2 separate regions of the Homo sapiens genome follow, and region 1 is linked to region 2. The links come from fine-mapping of genetic effects on gene expression. Tissue or cell type: lung. Region 2 holds a variant in brackets; the other region holds the start of a gene. All regions are shown on one strand. Distances are between the middles of the regions.

What was found. PIP is the estimated chance that this variant, and not a neighbour inherited with it, causes the effect.
Region 1: it holds the start of GPD1L, and the variant in region 2 is fine-mapped to the expression of GPD1L in lung (TOPMed, PIP above 0.99).

What each region holds. Positions count from the first base shown.
Region 1 is chr3:32,105,230-32,107,850 of GRCh38, reverse strand. It overlaps GPD1L (glycerol-3-phosphate dehydrogenase 1 like), which reads right to left and starts at 1,231. Exons shown (of 8, transcript NM_015141.4): 1 at 1,093-1,231. The coding sequence starts at 1,139. RefSeq lists silencers at 829-968, 1,089-1,498.
Region 2 is chr3:32,153,719-32,156,218 of GRCh38, reverse strand. The region is part of intron 5 of GPD1L (glycerol-3-phosphate dehydrogenase 1 like); the gene reads right to left. Among named protein-coding and RNA genes, the nearest start is that of GPD1L, 48 kb to the right of the region's middle. The variant A/C (reference allele first, on the strand shown) is at 1,395.

The DNA of each region.
Region 1 (2,621 bases), 48 kb after region 2:
TCCTTATAATGCAGTGATGCAGGCCAGCAATAGGGACACAGAGAGAGGCCACTGGCCTTGCTGGGATGGAAAAGTGAAGAACCAGGTAAGGTTTCCTTCAATAAGTACTTTCTGGGCCAAGTCTTGAAAGAGTAAAACTAAGACCAACTACCTAGGACCAGCTGCTGCAGCACTTCTGATGCCTGTCACGCCACAGAAAAACCGGTAAACAGAAGCACTGAAAGGACATCATCACTCTTAACTATTGTACACCAGTCCCTCCAATGTGGCAGAGTGTACAGCAATGAAAAAAGGCTTGGAAACACCAGATGCTACACTTTGCTTCCTTCCCCCTTCACACCCCCACCTCTACATTCACCCAAACACACCAGAGAATCCCACAGTGTACGTTTGATTAAGGGTACTAGAAGAACTGACATTTCTAATGTGCTCTATAAAATGTTAAAGTCAAATAAGGCCCCAAAGAGACGCAAAGCTTCGCAAACATCTCGGCAAGGGAGAATTCTCAACGCCTCAGGGAGAGCGGCCTGTTGAAACTTGGATTTTCTTCCTGATACGACGCGCCTAAGATAGTGGACCTATCAGAAGCGGGGGCGAGACGGGCACCTTGAAGGGCAGAGCATGCCCCGCCCGTGACCTGGGCAGCAAGAGCCCTTTAGCCCTCTCCGCCTCGGTTTCCTCAACACCGAAACTGCAGTAAGAATGCTCGAGCCTCCACCAAGTCCTTGACCCAGGAGATCCGCCGTGGAGAACGGAATACGCCCTTAGGATATTGTGCAAAACACCCAGGCGTGGCAAGCAGGTGGCTTCTGTGCGCTCAGTAACGGGGGCGCAGACAGGTGCCCGCGTGCTCGGGGTGCCCTCTCTCCGCGCTGTCCCCCGCACGCACGCGAGCCCAGCGCCTCCCGAGCGAGTGCCCCGGTGCGGCCTCCTCGGGCGCACGGTGCCCAGCCCAGCAACGAGGTCGCCCACCCCGCCTCCCTGCGCGCAGTGCCCGGTGCCCACGCCGCAGCATGGGGCGCGCAGCCCTCACCGCCCGGGAGAGGCGCTTCCTGGAAGCGGAGCCCCGGCCTCCAGCCCGCCGCCGCTCACCAGTTCCCCGAGCCCACGATGCACACTTTCAGGGGCGCCGCTGCCATGGCCGGGCCGAATGTAGCCGCCTGGACCGTGCTTCCCTGGCCGGCTGCCCACCTCCGCCTGTTCAGCCTTGCCCGCAGCGGCTGGCGGCGGCCCCGCCCCTTTCGCCTCTCCGCCAATGGTCGCGGCCACCCCCGCCCGGCGCCGGGGGCCGCAGCTGACAGCGGGGCAGGACCCGCTTCGCCACTCCCAAGAACCACTGCGCACGCCTGGCCCCGGCCGGCCTCCAGGCCCGGCTCCGGCACCGCCCCGCCCTGCCCGAGGCACGTCGGGACATGTAGTCCTCACCCCCCGTCGCTGCGCGGCCCTAGGCAGCAGCTCCCGCCGCGCCACATGCAGGCCCAGGCCACTGAGCAGCGACTCGCGCCCCTGGTTCCCGGTGGAGGCTGCACTCCATCCTCATGGGTGGAGCAGACCCAACCAGCTTGCCGTGGTGCCCCCTACACGCTCCTTTTTCCCTACTCGGGAAGGGCTGCCACATTGCCATTTGGAGCCGAGAGAGGCTCCTAGGTTGACTCTCAAGCCGACCAGACTTGGGGCAGAGCTCGAAATGCCCACCCGACCTTGTCATCCTCTGTTTCATTTGCACAAACAAGACACAGCCTGGCACCTCTGAACTTCTTAGAGAACTTGGATCTTCAGAGGACTTTGGAATTTGGCTGAACAGTACCTGCATTTCAAGGATGACACCTTTTCTAGTTAGAGTCAAGATAGAAACTTGACCTGGTGCAGTGGCTCACACCTGTAATCCCAGCACTTTTGGAGGCCGAGTCAGGAAGATCACTTGAGCCCAGGAGTTCGAGACCAGCCTGAGCAACATAATTAGGACCCCCCACCCCTCTGTACAAAAATTTAAAAAATTAGCCAAGCATGGTGGCACGCACCTATAGTCCTAGCTACTCAGGAGGCTGAGGCGGGAGAATTGCATGTGCCCAGGAGGTCGAGGCTTCAGTGAGCCAGGATAGGGCCACTGCACTCCAGACTGAAGGACAGTGAGACCCTGTCTCAACAAAAAATAAATACATAAAAATAAAGGGAAAAAGGTAACAACAGCTTGCATTCAGTGGGTGTCACCCTCACACGCTTACTTGGCAGGAATTGCTTTACCATTGTCTTTGCCCAGGGCCTGACTTATCCCTTGCTTGTGGTTTGTTTGCATTTGTGAGTAACACAATGCTCTCCTCCTTGACAAATAGAATCTTAGTTTGTTCATTCTGAGCATCAGTCTCTGCCAGGCACTGTGCTAGACGCTGTCAGAGTAGGACAAAGTCCTTTAAACCAGTGGTTCTCAAACTCTGCTGCATATTAGTCACTGGGGCTTTTAAAAATCCCCATGCCCAGACACCATTGCAGGCCAGTTACATCAGAATGTCCCATGGTGGGATCCAGGCATCAGGATATTTACTTATTGACATATATTTTTTGAGACAGTCTCCTTCTGTTGCCCAGGCTGGAGCAGAATTTTTTAAAGTTCAAGAGGTAGT
Region 2 (2,500 bases):
CATCAGTGTGTAATTCCCGGCTTACACACTCTCAGCAACAGGCAGCATCATGGAAGAGGCAAGGCAGAAGCCGTGTGAAAGGAGCCTGGAGAGATGCTGGGGGGTCGGGTGCGATCTAGTTCTGCAGCTCTGCTTCTAGAAGGGGTGAGTTGCCGAGTCAGGATGGGACAGCCAGACCTTTTAGGATGAGTGCTATGCAGAGGCTAAGAGCAGGGACCATAAGAACACCTGGGGCTGGGCCCACCTAGGTCTGGACGCCCTTCCCAGCATAGCAGCCAGACTAAGGAGGCTACAAGGAGACGGAAGCGGTACACGGCACTGACATCCAGAGAGCCTCTACATTGTCACAGTGTGACCTAGGCCAACCACTCCACCTCTCCGGCCATCTTCACCTCAGATGTAAAATTCAGGGCTTGGACAAGACTTTTCAAGGCCCTTCTAGTATTGACATTCTTTCAGGAAAGTTGGTGCAATTGTAGCCTGCACTGGGGCTGCAACCAGTACTGGGGCAACAGATTGACACCTGGGGACATGCAGCGGGTCTGACTGCCGAAGCCCAGAGGCCAGCCCTTGGGTGAGCTGGCCAAGTGGTTTTATTGAAGTTGCCATGCAATGTGGCGAGGCTTAGGCTGTTGGCCAACTGGTCAGATTCCTGAAATTGCTCTCTGATGCCCCCTGGACTGTGTCCCTATTTCCCCCTCCATCACAACATGAACCATTCTGAAACTGTTATATGAAAAACCAACCCCAGGAAATGTCTATGGGCTGAATGGGAGAGAACATGGACTTCTGTTCAACAAGGGGCTCCTGTCAACAGAGGAGGGGAGGCACTTATTTATTACGTGCCTTCAGCCAGCCCAGGCTAGTTACACACTGCCTCATCATCATTCCCATGACTCAGAAGTATGTACCTATCCTCCTATTTCCCAACTGGCACAACTGAGGCTCAGAGAGGTTTAGTGGCCCACTGAGAACACCTCACTGGTAAAAGATGGAGTCTGGATGTGCCCCTGGTGCCTGGCTTTGCAGCCCGCTCTGTCCCCTGTGCCTTGCTGCTCCAGTGTGGGAAATCTGCCCTTCCTCCAACCTCGGTCAAAAAGACCTGCCTGACCCTTTGCAATTGGTTGTCAAAGGAGAGTGCCTCCCTGGCCTACACCAAGGCTTGGGAGGTAAAAACGGTAGCTTAGGTTGGGCATAATCCTAGCACTTTGGGAGGCTGGGGTGGGTGGATTGCTTGAGCTCAGGAGTTTGAGACCAGCCTGGGCAACATAGTGAAACCCTGTTTCTACCAAAAATACAAAAAATTAGCTGGGCATGGTGGCATGCACCTTTCGTCCCACCTACTTGGGAGGCTGAGGTGGAAGGATCACTTGAGCTGGGGAGGCGGAGGTTGC[A/C]GTGAGCCGAGATCATGCCACTGCACTCCAGCCTGGGTGACAGAGTGAGCCTGTCTCAAAAAAAAAAAAGTAGCTTAGGAGAAGAAAAGGTAATAAAAAATAGCAACAGCAAACCTTACTGAACTGTTCTAAGAGCTTCATATATTATTACCTCATTTAAACCTCACAACATTGTCACAGGGCAGGTCCTATTATCATGGGAACATGATAGGAAACTGAAGCACACAGAGTAAGGACCTTGCCCGAGAAGATCACGCCACACCGTGCTGCTCTAGGGTCAGTGAGTGAAAGGCACAGAGAGGCCACCGCAGAGTCCAGATGAGAACTTTCTAACAGGAAGAGCTGACCTCACCCAACAGGAAAGATTTAGCAGGAGCTCTCTGCAACCAGAACCATCCAAGCAGGACTGTATGGACAGGCCCTGAGCTCCAAAGCAGTGTTTCTATGTTGCTGTACTCAGAAAAGCCACATGAGGGTGCCTGGGTGCTCCCTCACAGCTCCTCTGTGGCCCCTTCACTGCAGGGCATGGGAGTCTAGACCACCCCAAAGCTTCTACTAGAAGCTTTTACTAGACATTTAACCTTCCCACCAGGGGAGATCAGGAGACCTAGTGCAGGGTAAACTCCTCTCTTCTAAGAGGACCCTGGGCTGCAACCCAGTTTAGTCGCCTTATGACAGATCTTGAAATCCTCATTCTCTCCCTCCACCACTTACCATTGTCAAAAGAAAAATAAAGATACTGAGCCAGTCAGAGCGTGTTTGAACAGCATCCGAGCAGATGTCCTCCGAGATCGCTCAGATGTGAAAGTTATCATTATCCACTGTGCATTTAAATCTGCTTTAAACTCTTTTGGAGCTAAAAATACCATAATTTTCAGAAAACAGACGTATGTAGCTCTTCCCCATCTCCTGAGTGACGGAATACTCAGAGGCAATCATCCACTCTTGAGTGTACTCTTTCCAGTTCTGAATAGGGGTGGGTTGGATGGGGCTCAATTCCTCTCCCACTTCCACCTTCCCACAAAAAGAATAAAGAACAGGAGAACCAGCCCATGCTACCTGCAGGTTACATAAACATTCTCACCACCCAGCAAGAACTGCCTCCC